2 separate regions of the Homo sapiens genome follow, and region 2 is linked to region 1. A link means that fine-mapping ties the variant in region 1 to the plasma level of a protein whose gene starts in the linked region. Region 1 holds a variant in brackets. A gene starts in the other region. All regions are shown on their forward strands.

Region 1 (8,337 bases):
CACAAACTGAAAATGAGTACTGGGAAATAATTTCCATGCTAAGGCTGTTCATTTTACCCAGAAAGTTCTATCCCACTCTTTTTGCTTTGCAAAATCCTCCTTGATCTTAAGTCCTTGCTCTACAAACAGAACTCATGTCCTGCTTTGTTTCTCTGGCAGCACCACAACCAGGCTAGCGGGGCAGTGATAATGTGACTCTTCCTCTGTGTTTAAGGCCCTGATCATGGAGTCTGTGTCTTGCTGGTATATTCAGATGGGCCCTGGCTGTGGGGAGCTTTGACCCCGCCTGTATTCCTGAGTCCCACACCAGTGGAGACCTGCAGAGTGCACCTGCCCAAGGACTGTTTGCCCTACTTGGCAGAGAACCACATGCAGGACAGGTGGCAGGCTGCAGAGAGGAGGAATGCTGGGAGCCTGGGGAAGATGACTGCCCTTCTCAATTCCTGGGGAAAGGCTACTCTGAGAGCCTCAGGTGAACATGATGTGTCCTCATTAGCAGAACAACCAGAGCCCAAGGGGAGCAGAAGTAATTGACCTGCCTGCTGGAGTGGGATAACAAGAGTTCATTTTTCCAACCAGCTTTTTCATCTGCTCAAGCAGGAATAATATCTCATTTTCATTCAACAGTTATTTACTTACAAGCAATTTTACTTGTAAGGTGCTGGAGATCAGATGTGCAGTATCGGAACTCTGACCCCAAATCAGGTCTTGAAAGCCCATACAGGAACATGTTCAATGAAGGTGATGGACGCTGACAATGGTCAGTTGTGGGGCATGGAAGGTGGCTCTAGAGCAAGGGCTTCTCAGGTGAGAAAGTAACTCCTGGGCGTGGAGGTAACTGCCATTGAAGTACACTTCCACATACATCACAACTATTATATGTGACCCTAACAACCCACTGAAAACTCCATCGAGAACTGCTGTCACTCTCAGATTAGCCCAAATGCCACCCCACTGAGGGGCCTTCTCTGACCACCCATCTCAAGTGGCCAGCCCTAGCTTGCCTGTGACTCCGCCTTCACTGGGTGCTCTCTCTAAAAGTTGCTGACTCTTTACTGTATCTCCCAATTCCCACTCCATTGGTTCCATAAGGGGAGGGGTGTCTCACTCAACATGGTGTTCCTGGTACCAAGAACTGGCTGACGAAGCTGGGTGCCGTGGCTCATGCCTGTAATCCCAGCACTTTTGGGAGGCCAAGAAGGGCGGATCACCTGAGGTCTGGAGTTCAAGATCAGCCTGACCAACATGATGAAACCAAGTCTCCACTAAAAATATAAAACAATTAGCCAGGCATGGTGGTGGGTGCCTGTAATCCCAGCTACTGGGGAGGCTGAGGCAGTGCCTCAACCCAGGAGGCAGAGGTTACAGTGAGCCGAGATCGTGCTATTGCAATCCAGTCTGGGTGACAAGACTGAGACTCCACCTCAAAAACAAAAACAACAACTGGCGACTAAACAACTATATGACATAACTCTTTTGCAGGCTAGGGCCCATGGTCTTGGCATAGCCCGGACCCTAGATACCTTCCGCACCTGCATGTATGGCCTCCCCATGGCTCTAAGTTACCCCAGCATCAGGCAGCAGAGAACAGCAGCCCTAAAGTCTCACACAGAGCTCCACCTCACAGCTTGGTGAAGGGAGCGCTGTGGAGACACGGCAGGTACATGTGCAGCCCCCTACAGCCCATACCTTCTGGAGCCTCAGAACGTTCTGGATTAAGAAGCGATAGGCATTGTACCATGGGAGCAGTACATCCTTAAGGACGTCCCGCACACCCTCTTCTTTAAAGCGGAGGTTTTCTGCTCTCACCACAGGGGAGTTAATCAGATATAATCTGGAAGAGGGAGAAAAATTAGACAGAAAAGGTACTTAGACAGTAAACCAATTATTACTACTCGACATATTGAGAGAGCAAGATGAAAATCAGTCCTATTTTCTACAAAAGGGGGTAATTATGAATACTCTTTGAGTGGTCAATTTAAAACTCACAAAACTCACTCTCACTTTCTATAAGAGACTTAGCAAATTATAAAAGACGTATATAATCTGACACCAAAATATGGCACTGTATAGCACAGAAATGCATCTTATGCCACTCTCACTGCAGGACCAATGGGGTACACCAGCACTAAGAGAAAGGCTGGCCTGGTCCTCGTCAAGAGCCACTGTGTCCTTCCCACGGACACGACCTGCATCTGCTGCTTGCAGAGAGAGGGACTCACAAGGAAGAGCCTTCACAGAGCAGAGTCTTGACATCTGGTGGGCAGAGGTTAGGGATGCTGCTAAACATCCTACAAAGAACTACCACCACAAAGAATTACACAGCCCAAATGGGCAGCAGTGCCAAGGGTGAGTCTAAGAGACAGTGGAGAATTGGGGGAGAGCCCCACTAATGGCTCCTGGTCAACAGAGGTACTGTGTGAAGGTGCTGAGTCACAGGCCTGGGCACTGGTCTCATGCCTAGGACACAGGGATGCTGAACAAGATCTCTAGGTCCCTTTCAACTTGAACACTGTGTGGTTTCATGATTACAGCTACCTCAAGCAGTGGCTCAAATTTCTCCAAAAGCTTTTCAATATGAGTTTTTTTATCACCTCTAGCATAGATATATCTCACATGGCTCTGTAAGTACAAAATTAAAACAAATGATGAAAGAGAATTCTAATACCAACAAGACAGGGAACCTAGAAAGGAAGTAAGGCAGAGGCAATCAGCATCTAGCCTGGGGAGGACTTGGACAGCTCAACAACACCCAACACAGGTCCTCTTCCTCAAACAGACCTCTAGGTTTAAAAATGCCTTTATTATTTAGAAAACTATTTTGGGGGTTTAAAATCAACAACCATACCAACATAACATCCAAATAACAGAGATATGTTGCTAAAAACCTAACTATAAACCAAATCTAAGAATACTGATTAATAGTATAGGAGATGCTTACATAAAAAAACAATAGATACACACAAGGCAAAGCACTGGTTTGTACCTGAGGGCATCAGCACCATACTTCTGGATGATGGAAACTGGATCTGGATAATTCTTTTTCCGTTTGCTCATTTTTTGGCCATCACTTGTAAAACAAAAGGGAGATGCCAATTAAGTAAGTCAATATCACAGATGATCTTGTTTTAAGGATACAAATCATTTGCAAACAGGAATATACAAAATGAAATGGGAAGGAGTAACTTAGATAGAAGTTAGTGCTAATAGGCCGGGCGCGGTGGCTCACTCCTGTAATCCCAGCACTTTGGGAGGCTGAGGCAGGCAGATCACCTGAGGTCAGGAGTTCAAGACCAGCCTGGCCAAAATGGTGAAACCTGTTTCTACTAAAAATACAAAAATTAGCTGGGCGTGGGGGCGCACACTTGTAATCCCCACTACTGGGGAGGCTGAGGCAGGAGAATTGCCTGAACCTGAGAGGCAGAGATTGAAGTGAGCCAAGATCGCGCCACTACACTCTAGCCTGGGCAGCAGAGCAAGACTCTGTCTCAAAAAAGAAACAAACAGTGTTAAGGTACAATGGTAAGATATTTTGTTAATATTTGCAAACTTCTTTTTGAATATCATACTAAGTCCATGAGGAAGCTTCAGGGTAGACTGAAGAAGAAAGATGTGTCAGAATATATCCCAAAGAAATGAAAACTTACATTATCATAAAAACCTATTATCAATTGTTCACAACAGCTTTATTCACAATTGCCAAATGTTAGAAGCAACCCAGATGTCCTTCAAGAGGTGGATGATCAAACAAACCATGGCATACCCATAATACAGAATGCTATTTATCCATGGAAAGGAAGGAACTATTGGTAGGTGCAGTCATCTAAAATCTCAATGGAATTATGTGGATTTAAAAAAAGCCAGCTGGGTGCGGTGGCTCATGCCTGTAATACTAGCACTTTGGGAGGCCGAGGCAGGTGGATCGCCTGAGCTCAGGAGCTCGAGACCAGCCTGTCAACATGGTGAAACCCTGTCTCTACCAAAAATACAAAATATTAGCTGGGTGTGGTGGTTCATGCCTGTGGTCCCAGCTACTCGGGAGGCTGAGATGGGAGAATCGCTTGAGCCCAGGAGGTGGAGGCTGCAGTGAGCCGAGATCACGCCACTACACTCCAGCCTGGGTGATAGAGTGAGACTCTGTCTCAAAAAAAAGAAAAAAAAAGCCAATTCCCCCAAGTTAGTTACTGTATAATTCTATTTATATAACATTCTGGAAACGACAAAATTACAGAGATGGAGAAAAAACCAGTGGTTGCCAGGGATTGGGGATGACAGTGGGAAGGCAGGAGGGGAAGGCAATGCAGGAAGGGAGCCTTTGATGTTGAATTCATTCAGTAACCTGACTGTGCTGCTGGATACAGGATCCTACACACGATAGCCGTATACAGGTAAATGCGTATAAGCAAATAAGTATATGTAAAACTAGAGAAATCTGAATACGATTAGTGGGCTATATCAATATCCTGGTTGTGATATATACTGTAGTTTTGCAAAATGTGACCACTGGGGGAAACTGGGCAAAGAATTTAAGGGATCTCTATTATTTTTCACAATTGCATGCAAATCTACAATGATCTCAATACAATTTCCCCCTTTTTTTTTTTGAGATGG[A/G]GCCTCACTCTATTACCCAGGCTGGAGTGCAGTGGCATGATCTTGGCTCACTCCAACCTCTGCCTCCCAGGTTCAAGCGATTCTTGTGCCTCAGCCTCCCAGGTAGCTGGGGTTACAGGTGTGTGCCACTGCACCCACTAATTTTGTATTTTTAGTAGAGACGGGGGTTTTATCAAGTTGGCCAGGCTGGTCTCCAACTCCTGACCTCAGGAGATCCGCCCACCATGGCCTCCCAAATGGCTGGGATTACAAGCATGAGCCATAGCACCCAGCCCTCAATAAAATTTTCAATTAAAAAAAAAAAAAAAGTAGTACACATACTACAGAGGCAGACTGCCTGGGTTCAAAATTTGCATTTACCACTCATTTGCTGTGTGTCCTTTGGCAAGTCACTTTTTCCTGTCCCTCAGATTCCTCAAAGGTCACAAAGGGATTATAGGACCCATCTCAAATGGTTCTGGGGATTAAATGAGTTAAAATGTGAAAATGCACACAGTGGGGCCTGGCAAAAAATAAGGATGCACAAAATGTTAGGTGACATCCTCTTCCTCCTCACACAGCATATAAAGTAGGATTTCTGTGTGGGTACTCAGCACAAATTCTATTTTAAAATATTTCATTTTAAAATTTTCATTTATGTTTATTTTTATTCTTAATGACTAGAGGTAATAAAGTAAAGGAAAAATGAGACTTCCTTATAATAGCAAAATGTGGGAAATAATGCCCATTGGGAGGAAGTTTCAGATGAGGGGAAGAATGGGATCTGGTGGCAGAGTACCTCGGTCAAGCCCAGTGTGGCTGTCACTAGCTTTGATCCTGGGCACCTGTGGTCTCTAGAACCCACAGCTTCCTCGTGTGTTAAAAAAAGGACAACAAAATCTACATGAAAGGACTGATGTACAGATTAAATAAGATCTATAAGCAAAAGTATTTCATAAAGTGCTAAGTTTAGTAAATGCTATTTTATTACTAGTAATATCACTAGTAGCATTATGTTACTAGCAGTAGCACAATCTGAAAGTCCTCCCCTTCCTCCTCCTCCATCAGGCTTAGCTGTCACACACTCCTTCTTGAGAAACAGTGGAGACAAAGCTCCACCTGTCACTACAACAAAGTTGACCGCTCTCACGCACTCCTTCTTAAGAAACAGTGGAGACAAAGTTCCACCCGTCACTACAACAAAGTTGACCTACCTTGCCAGGACAAGCCCATTCACAATTACGTTCTTGAAAGGCGGTTGTCCAAAGAGGGCCGTGGCCAGCACCAGCAGGGTATAAAACCTGAAAAAAAACCCCAAACAGTTCAATAAAAATAGAAATGAAGTCCAAGCATAAGAAAGAAACTGTATTTATTCATTGAATTTCTATTTTTGATAAGTCACACTTCTTGAGAATCACTTAAAGCAATGATTCTTAATCCTGGTTACTGGAGACCAATCAAATTACTGTCTAAGATTTGAAAGAAGCATTGAAATAAACGTCTGGAATGATTTACTGACCATTTCTCTGTTACCAGAGCTCCCAGGAAGTCTGTGTGGAGAGCCACATGGCAGCACTGGGTGGCCTCTCAGGACCACCCAGAAGCACCTAGCTGAAGATGAAGGATGGGTTTTGAATTTGGCACAAGATCATATGGAAAAGACAATTTGATGACAAAAGATGCAAAATGCACTCTCACCCAAAAGTGATAAGGCAGACTAGAAAATGCTTTTATTCTGTAAAATGTTATGTACCTCATTTATGTGCTACCTAGCTTGTTTCCCAAATGAACTCATATCCCTGACCACTGTCCTGGGGGTGATGCTTTCCTGCCTCTCTTACCTAGTCCTGCACTCTGAGAACATCAAGGGACATGAGCTGAGGAGACCAGACCCCATAGTTAACATAAACACTGATCCAGATATCCCTCCCACTTCTAAAGGAGAGTTGGGAGGAGCCCTGGTGCCCAGGAGAGGTAGCCCAGGCCTCAGGAATGGAGAAGGAGGCAGGCACCAAGGACACGGGATCCACATGAGGACTGTTACCAGCTAACAGACTTTGCTACTCCTCAAAGGAACAAGCTCATTGGTAAGGCATCTACCCCTTTCTAAAAACAGAATTTGTGCTGGGTAGCTGTTCCTATAGACAAAAAGGACTGGAATCTGAAGACAGCACATTCCAGAACATGAAGACTTGAATTCAATGATTACCCAAAGCTGTCAAAGAGAGAAAATGACACCAACAATTCCTTTAACACACCCCTGCAGAAACATTACTGTGAATGTATAATTAAAACCTGGGCTGGGCGCAATGGCTCACGCCTGTAATCCCAGCACTTTGGGAGGCTGAGACGGGTGGGTCACTTGAGGTCAGGAGTTCGAGACCAGCCTGGCCAACATGGTGAAACCCAGTCTCTACTAAAACTACAAAAATTAGCTGGGCATGGTGGTGCATGCCTGTAGACCCAGCTACTTAGGAGGGTGAGGCAGAAGAATTGCTTGAACCCAGGAGGCGAAGGGTGCAGTGAGCCGAGATCACACCCCTGCACTCCAGCCTGGGCAGCAGAGTGCAAGATTCTGTCTCAAAAAAAAAAAAAAAAGTAAATAAAGCCTGGGCCAGCAAAGCCAATCCATGGAAAGAAAGTAATTCACCTTCTTCCAATTAAGGAACTGTTTTACATAAGGCACCAGATAAAAATCAATGCCCAAATCCTCTCTCATATGTATATTTTTTAAAAATCTGGATTTTTTTAGAATGTTGATTTATAAGGCTAGCCTCAATATCTGAGCACATTACCAACTATCCCTCAAATTTCTAGCACCCAAACTACTGTCTTTTATGCAAATACTCAAACATTTGAGTAAATGATCTGACGTAAGCTAAGAACACATAACTTTTTTTATCATTTTAACATCCAGTGTAACACATATATTCCAAAATGCCAGTGAGATCATTGAAATTGTAAAACTACAGCCCTATTGTAGTGGGAGAGTCCTACTCAAAAGGCACTTTAATGTCCGTGCTTGGTGGTGGAGGGGAGAGGGCAGGAATGTAGCCTGTCTTATTTGCCACAATCTCTCCATCACCCAGTAGATAAATGGCAGTGACTTAGTAAAATACTCCCTAAATAAAATAAAATCAATAAAACACGTGATGAAAGAACAAGGAGGCATACCATCCTCTGGTTTGGTCGATGCCCTCGGCAATGAAATCTGCAGGAAAAGCATCCTCAAACTCCCTCTTGTTTTCAAACGGGTAATGAACCTGAGCATAGGGCATGCTGCCACTCTCAAACCAACAGTCAAACACTTCAGAGATGCGGTGCAAGGATCCCTTCCCACAGCGTGAAGGAATGGTCAGGTGGTCAACACTAACAAACAGAAAAGTAGTCATTTCTATTAACTGTAAGCATAACAGAACTTGCAGTTTAATTGCTAATAGGAAACACAAAACCCTGACAAGATATTATACACATTTGCAAACAGAAATATCAGCAATTCTCAAAGGCTTTCAGAGAGCACCATGAATCCTCCATCTGAAAGGTTATGCACCATTCACCTCACATTTCACAAGGACAGAGGCCACAATACTGCAATATGACATGAGTCATCAGCAAAGTAATTCAGCAAGCTAGTCACTTCCATGTGTGGCTCTGTAATCTGCTAGAGACCAGGTCTTAATAGGAGAATCGTAAAACTGAAGTGAATCGAACATTTAGAAACTGACCTCTCTCTGTGGAGATCTGAGA
Region 2 (8,337 bases), not on the chromosome of region 1:
AAAATGAATCCTGGGACTAGATTGGTTGCCTTAGTCTTGTACCCCTAGCACCTGGCATGGGGCGTGACATGTATAACTCACTCAATAATGTTTATGAATCAACTCTGTAAAAGTCCTTTAGTCTTAGAAGCATACTTCCAAATACGATCATGTTGACTTCCTATCTGAATATTTCACAGTGAGCCCAAAGCTCCTGCACACTTGCCTCAGGTAATGAGTCTACAAGGAAGCCCTGAAGGCATTTGCCATCAGATTATCAAAGGACTCCATGGCACCGAAGATGCTAAGGACCACCAACTGGGGGTTCTCTGTCATCATTGGCAGCATTTCCCCAAGTTTATACTTAGTTCATGATCTCGGTGAGTCCCTGTTTCAGATTATAATCTTTTAATATTTTTCTTTAATTTGATCTAATTATTTTATACTTATTATCTATTTTAGACTGTTCCTAAGCAACATAATTCATTAAAGGAGAGATTTGAGGTGATATTTATGTGTGTTTGCTAAAAATCCATACTAAGAAAAATATACAATAATTTCACATGATTAATAGCTTTCTTTGGGTACCACCTAAATTAATCTTACACACTGCTAGTGGGAAATGCTGACCTACAGAATAAATTTAAACTCCCTGGCATGGCTCTCAAGACCAGCTATATCTGGGTCTTAACCTCCTGATCAGCCATAGCTTACATACGTCCTCCACAGTGCATGGAACATTGTGATTACTCAATAATATTTGTGAACAATTGAATGGATTTGTAAACCCTTCTGTTTTAACTACATTGATATCTTTACCACCTGTCAAAACACTCTTTTTTTCCCTGCAATTTTCACCTTTTCACATGTTCTTCTGACCCTTGGAAAGCCCTTTCACCTCACCTCCACCTATCCAGCTCTGACATCTCCTATAAAAGCCTCCCTTACTTCTCATCTGAAAGTTCCCTCCTCTCCCCTCTGAAATCATTTGATCACTTTATATCTCCTTTGATCCTTGTCATTTACGTCCTTATATTTCAGCCATCTTTTTATGAATGGATTTTCCCAACTAGATTGCCATCCTCCTGGTTTGAATGGCTCAAAACTCCCTTCTATGTCTCTATCCTACTATGATGGCTTAAACAGAGGTAGTGCTTTAAAAATATTGATTAGTTGATGATTCTAGGCACCAGACTAAATTGATTTATGGGCGTGACATATGACCTTAATCCATCATCAAGCTCTTGGGTTGGGCTTGGGAGTTATTCTTCCACTCTAAGAAGGGAAGAGACTTGACTCCCCATGGACAGGGAACATGGAAGAGTAGGCTGGTTGCTCTACCCAGGAGAAAAGTATAAAATAAGAGCTCACTGTAGTGGGAGGAAGGCATTACAAAGTATACAAGGAAGCTTTTGGTTTTAATGGATATATTCATGATCTTGATTGTGGTGATGGTTTCAATGAATGTTACATATGTCAACACCTTTCAAATTATACACTTTAAATATGTGCGATTATACTTTTATACATCAATATTTTTATATGTCATATTTTTATAAGTCAAATATACCTCAATAAAGCTGTTTTGAAAAAGTAAGTTCACTGTGAAGTTCTGTGCATGTGCAAATGCAGTAAGCAATAGATGGAAGAGTTACATTTCAGGGCAAGAGAACGAATGTTTGTTGACAAATTTCTCATGCCAGGTGCTTTGCAAGCATGATCTTCTCTGGTTCTCACAATGACCCCATAATGCAGGTATTGATTCTCTACTCGTTTTGCACCAGAATAAATCAAGCCTTGATGCAGATAACTGATTTCCCCAAATGACAAGGTGATAAAGGAGCACGCTTTTTTCACCTTGGAGGTGGCACTTTTTTTTCCCAAGATGGGGTAGGTTTGGAGTTTTTTTGGTCTTTCTCTCCTAGGGAGCTGCACTAAGCAGATCCAAAGAGTCAGAAGAGAGGCAATAGTAGCCAACAGGGCATGTCCTGTGCGATTTCTGTCCTCAGGCTGCACATTTCCTGCAGACTGGCAGAGGTGCTGGCGGCTGGGTTGTTTACTAAGAGATGTGTTCCTGCCCTCAATAATCTCCAGTAATAATAAGCACAGTAAACTCCACATCCTGACCTGGATCATCCAGATACTCTATGAGAGAAGTGAGAACGGAAAACGTTTCTAGTTTTCCAGGGGATGCAAACAACATTTTCTCACCCACACCCTGAGCCAGACACTTAGGGCTCAGTGCTGAGAAGTATTAGGGAGGGTTCTTACAGGAGGAAGTTGTTCATTTTCAATTCAGACTCACCTCCAAAAGCAATCTGTAATCTCAACTTGCCATTTCCATGAGAAAGATATTATGAATTATAAATTTTGGCAGCCAACTCAATTTTAAAGGGAGATAATATCTTAGGGACTAAGGAATACCTACTCAACATTTATTCCAGTACCTAGAATATTAAGTAACTCATTAGTAGTCACTAAAGTTTGATCAGCACTTCATAGTAAATGGAGTGCTTTCTTATCTGTAACCTCCTTTGAGTCACTCAACTATGTTATGTAGGTATTATTACTCCCACTTTATAGATGAGGAAATTGAGGCTCTGAGGCATCAGCTAATTATTCACAACCACTAAGCCAACTAGCTCTCAAAATCCCAAATCCTGAGCTATTTCTTCACTATTACCTTTCTTCTTTCAAGAACATCTGGCCAATATTAACGGGAAGCTTCTTTTATACCTGGTTAGTGACTATAAAAGCATAACTGGCAAAAATTAAATTAGTTCCTTTGGACCTTCAGCTTCTACTATAGATATCTAGATATCAGGGGTTTTTTTTCCTACTAGGACCATATTAACCAAAAAACAAACAAACAAACAAACAAACAAAAACATTAACTTGCTAGCTCATTAGATTTAGTTACCAAATTTAAAGACCTAAGAGAAGAAAACACACTTTTCCCACCAATAATTCAAAGCTTGTACGTTGCTCTTTATAAAGACGGAAATGATGAGCTGGATGATTAATGGGCCATCTACACTTCCTGGAAACTGTAAACAGTGCTTTAAGGATGTACATGACACATCAAACAACACAGCCTTAGGAAGAATCTTTAAAATATATTTCCATCCTGTTTGAACATTTCTTAAATAAGGTCACAAAATAAAAACTTATCAAAAGTTTGAACAAAACACAAATCACAATTTGATGTTTTTTGACTGTTTTTACCCTTTTTATTCTAAGTAGAAGTTGAGAAATTTTTTAGTTAATTAAAAGCCCATATGGCAATCAAGGCCTATTTGGAAAATGACAAAGGTACGGCAGTAGACCAACATTAATTCTTTGTATTACTTGGTGTTCAAATTAACATTTTTTAAAAGGACCCAATTATGATGTCAAATTGATAGATGTTTTGTGGCTTTGGATTAAAAGATGTTTGTAAGTATTTTTCGAGGTTCCTGAAATGACTATATAATTGGTATAGAACAAAATGTGCCTTGTTTTTGTGTATCCATATGTATTTAACATCCTTATATAGATGTATTTACCCTTACCTATATCATTCCCATGCATTGTAAATTTACTTATTGTGTCTTGAAAAAAATCCTAGCAAAATTTCATCAGCAAAAACTTACCTTCATTCTTGAAACTCCTAATGATGTTGGCAGAGGGCATGGAGGTCCGATCTGTTGCAAATTTGTTGTAGAGTTCCAACATGTACTCTGGTGGGTCCACCTTGGCTGAATCCTGCGTGGGGATGTCAGAGAGGTTTAGTGTCTTAAGAAACTCATCCTTCATGCTCTGGAGCAGTGTGTTAAAGTCGACACCGTCTTGCTCTGAGAAAACATCACCAAAGAGGGACATATCTTCTTCCAGAGGAGACTGCTCTAGGTTCATGATGGGGCTGCCAGAAACCAAGTAAGCTGCCAGGCAGAAAAGAGCGCACAGTGTCAGGACCAGAGAGCCCATGACTCCGCTCGAGCTCCTAGGCCAAGCCAGGAAGGTTTAGCTTCCCTGGGCTCTAAGTGGCAGTTTTATCTTGTGGAACGTAAATGTCTCCTGTCACTGGAGACAAGTTTGGAAACTCTTCCTCTCTCTCTCCCTCCCCCTACCACTCTTCCTCTCCCCCTAAAAGTCAGGTTGCAGTAATTGGATAACAAAATCCCCTATAGGGGCCTAGCCTTTCTTATCTCCCTAGTGTAAACTTGTGCACCAGAATTTGTTTCTATCTTGCAATCCCTATTTCTTTTAATGAGCATTTTGTAAACATTTCCACATTCTGACACTGGTTGAGAGATAGGACAATTTTCTCTTTGCAAAGGCTCTGCTTCTCTTCCCTTCAATTCACTTCCTTTCAGCAGGAATGCCTAAATTCTGTTTTTATGGGGCTTAGTTTCACACATGCATATAATAGGTATAAGAATCAACATAATGCACATCAATGGTGATACATGTTAATTTGAGAGGTAGGGCTCAGATAAACACTTGTGAAGACAGACCAAATATCCAAACTTTCCAAGTTTAAGTTAATAGCTATAAATGAATTATATAAATTTTTAGAAGTGTACCTTTTTAGAAACAGGAAAGTATAAACTTCATGATTGACAGGCTTTTTCCTACCTATTTGATCTGGCTAAAATAGCATTTGAAAAATAGGGCAAGTGCTTAGTTATACTGGCAACTAGAATTTATTAGATGCTTCCTACAAACAGGCATTGTACTGAGTGCTTTACACCTATCATCAAGTGTGCTCCTGTAATAACCGTATCATTATCTCCATCACATATATGGGTCAGTGAAGTGCCATAGCTTGCCAGAGGCCACAAAGTTGCAAAGTGATGGGGCCACAATTTCAACCAAGGCAGCCTGATTCTTATGAAGAATAAAACAGTCACACTTTTAAACCACTCTTCTACCAGACTAGGGCATGGGCAATAATGCTGAGAGGCCAACACGTCCCCAGATCAGCCTGGAGGCAGGAGGCAGGCAGAAATTTGTAGCTGGATGTGGACCTCAGGTCCTCCATCTGTGCAATGAGTTGTTAATATAACCAACATCTCTGCGAAATTCATCCTTCTGACTCAATCAAAATTGTCATCAAGAGGCTCCAGCAAAAGCTTGGTGTGATGGTTAATACTTACTGTCAACTTGATTGGATTGCAGGATGCAAAGTATTGATCCCGGGTGTGTCTGTGAGGGTGTTGCCAAAGGAGATTAACATTTGAATCAGTGGGCTGGGAAAGGTAGACCCACCCTTAATCTAGCTAGGCACCATCTAATCAGCCGCCAGCACGGTTAGAATATAAAGCAGGCAGAAAAACGTGAAAAGACGAGACTGGCCTAGACTTTCAGCCTATCTTTCTCCCATGCTGGATGCTTCCTGTCCTTGAATATGGGACTCCAAGTTCTTCAGTCGGGGAACTTGGACTGGCTCTCCTCGATCCTTAGCTTGCAGACAGCCTATTGTGGGACCTTGTGATCGTGTGAGTTAATACTTAATAAACTCAGAAATATATCTCCATCCCCTATTAGTTCTGTCCCTCTAGAGAACCCTGACTAATACACTCGGCAAACAACATTACTAGGCACACAAAAAACGCCAAATGCCTTGGTCCTGAAAATAAAAATGGTAGAATCGATTGTGTGTCCAGATTAGGAAAGACAAATCAGGTTCATCACATTTTCCATTCTAACTAGTGACAGTAGCAGCCGGGGTGCAGCCAGAGAGGCCCTGCGGACAAGCCCAGGGGATGTTTTTCCCACTGAGGTGGTAGTTCTGGTATCTTTCTGACGTGCACACCATTACTCACGCGTCCTGGTGCTGTGTTCCAAGGGCTGTGTCAAGATATTTGGTTCACTGGAATCCTTTCTCAGTTTCTAGGTTAAATTTTCCTATATTCATGCTCATCGTTTAGCTACAATGTCTCCACTTAACTTTTTCTCCAGGCTCACTTAGGTTTCTAGTCATCTTTTGATTCTTTTTCCTCCTAAAATGTACAATGTTACAGCCATTTTTTAAATTACCATAGAAAGAACCATATTTTGTTTAGTAGTTGTTAATTGTCTATTTGTTTAATAGTTTTGATTTTGATTCAATGTTCAATTTTGATTCAAACTTTCTATTCCCATAGTAAAACGACAATTGTAGACTGGAGACAGATTATACCCTGAACAGTCCCACAAGTGAGTGAGTGACTCCAAGGGCCAGAAGCCGTCCTTCGGGTGGTTCGTTTTCACATGAGGTTTCTGACAGCATACCAGCAATGCCCTGTATCATGTCCTGCATCCAAACAGGCACCCATTTATCTTCACACACACACAGATGTCAACGCACACTCCAAAACTCTGAATGCAGGCATGTGCGTGTAACTGCCACAGGACAGCAGTGTAAGTGGTGGTACTTACAACCCCTGAGCACACTGGTTTCAAAGGTCACGGGGAGAGACATGCATCCCACATTGCGGAGTTCTAGTTCTTTACATTCTTGAGCATAAAAACATTAACTGAGACTTCACTGGCTTCCCTGTACTTGGTGTTAGAAAAACTACAGGGTCAAATATTTGGATCCATGTTGATATTTGGGGATGATTAAAAGATACAGTAGGAAAATGACTATAGCCATATTTCAGACATTTCAAGATATCAGCGTGTCTTGAGACGCATGCTTGGTGAAGGTTCTTAAACCCATACCTGTGCTGGGTGGACAAGGAAGGAGGTTGGCTTCATGCTTGGAGGAAGGGGACATAAGCTCTCTCCCTCTTCCAGGCCTGGGACACCTCACATCTTAGCTGCAGAGTCTCTTTATCCCCATATTTTTCTCTAGAAGCTTTTTCTGATGACTCTCATCTGACCCTAAAAGGTCCAAATGTCTTTACATTCCTACCCCTATTTTGATCTTTCTGGATGCAATTCATTCTATTCTTTTGCACTTATCTCATTATTTTGTATCCTTCTCATTTGGAATGTGTTACGGTTCATTCAGAGTGGATGGGCAGTTTCGTGAGCCAAAGATGTAAAAGGTATGTTTAGATGTTTTAAAAGAACCCATACATGTGGAAAGCAAAATATTAATTACACATTATGCTTTTCCACCCCACTGCAAAATGCTCCAGAACCTCTGATTTGCAAAGTTCTGGGCCAGTTTTTAAAACTAGTTCCATAACTGTACAAACTTAAAGAATCTAACATTGAACTTCATTGGATTCTCAAAGGGATCTGGGATCCAGACATGGTCAGAGCCACTGGACAGCATCCTGATGAATTCTGCTGTTTCCTGTGAGTAGTGCACAGCCCCTGAATAAATGCAACCAATAAAATTATCCTGAATGAAAAGAGGCCAATGAAGTCAGGAGGTCTTTGAACATGACTCTAGGTTCTTGGAACCCTCTCTACCTTGGATCCCACTTCAGAAGCATTACATTACTCCTGCTACCTTCTCAGGACCAGGTGTGATAATAAAAAAAAAATTTAACAAGCTATACGATGGGTTTTGCCCATTTAACTTATATATGAATTGAATCATGTTATATGTTTTCTTCCAAGACTTACTTTTTTGCACTCAACAGGATTTTTCCAATGCACACTTGTTGATGCCTGTAGCTGAGTTCATTGATTTTCACTGAATTGTTGTCAGCTTTATAAATACATAAAAATTTCTTTGTACGTTATACTGTTGATAGAGACTTTGTTTCTTTTTTTCTCATTATTTACAGTACTACAGTGAATAATCTTACTGTTATTTTCTATTTAAGAGATTCTCGGCCAGGTGCGGTGGGTCACGCCTGTAATCTCAGCACTTTGGGAGACCGAGGTGGACGGATCACGAGGTCAGGAGCTCGAGACCAGCCTGACCAACATGGTGAAACCCCGTCTCTACTAAAATACAAAAATTAGCCAGCCATGGTGGCATGTACCTGTAATCCCAGCTACTCAGGAGGCTGAGACAGGAGAATCACTTGAACCCAGGAGGCAGAGGTTGCAGTAAGCCAAGATCACGCCACTGCACTCCAGCCTGTGCTGGCTAATAACCACCATGTTGGACAGTGCAAGTCTAGACTTTATTTAGTAAGAGTAAATATCAGAATAGAATTGCTGGTTGGTAGTCAGAAAAGACTCCAACAATTTTACATAATGCCAAATTGTTTTCGAAAATGGTTTTCCCAATCCTGTGTCTCCCAGCAAGAGTTCGTGTTGTTCCACATCCTTGCCAATGCTTATGCTGATTGACTTTGGGGACTGTAGTTGAGTCTTGGAGGCTCTCTCTTCTGCTCTTCTCTGCCACTCATTCCTGAGAGATGCAACAGAGCATGTAGATTATCACCTTGAGAAAAGGTATAGTTTGGGCTGGGAAACACTGTTTTA

Direction of the effects. Positions count from the first base shown, and alleles are read on the strand shown. Strength reflects both the effect of a copy and how common the allele is.
With allele A in place of G in region 1, the plasma level of the protein whose gene starts at base 3,984 in region 2 is higher (weak association).

The links. A credible set is the group of variants that fine-mapping cannot tell apart. PIP is the chance, under the fine-mapping model, that this variant and not a neighbour inherited with it causes the effect. Protein levels are from antibody-based Olink assays in UK Biobank. Linkage for the fine-mapping came from a reference panel and not from the study's own genotypes, which makes the PIPs less certain.
Region 2: it holds the start of BMP10, and the variant in region 1 is the best candidate, but not a certain one, in a credible set for the plasma level of the BMP10 protein (UK Biobank, PIP 0.81).

What each region holds. Positions count from the first base shown.
Region 1 is chr9:92,257,165-92,265,501 of GRCh38, forward strand. IARS1 (isoleucyl-tRNA synthetase 1) reads right to left here. Exons shown (of 34, transcript NM_002161.6): 15 at 8,316-8,337; 16 at 7,765-7,959; 17 at 5,805-5,891; 18 at 2,987-3,070; 19 at 1,690-1,834. Among named protein-coding and RNA genes, the nearest start is that of MIR3651, 31 kb to the right of the region's middle. The variant A/G (reference allele first, on the strand shown) is at 4,612.
Region 2 is chr2:68,867,414-68,875,750 of GRCh38, forward strand. It overlaps BMP10 (bone morphogenetic protein 10), which reads right to left and starts at 3,984. Exons shown (of 2, transcript NM_014482.3): 1 at 3,612-3,984. The coding sequence starts at 3,945. It overlaps LOC105374792 (a long non-coding RNA gene), which reads right to left. Exons shown (of 3, transcript XR_940227.3): 3 at 8,128-8,263. RefSeq lists a silencer at 3,800-3,960.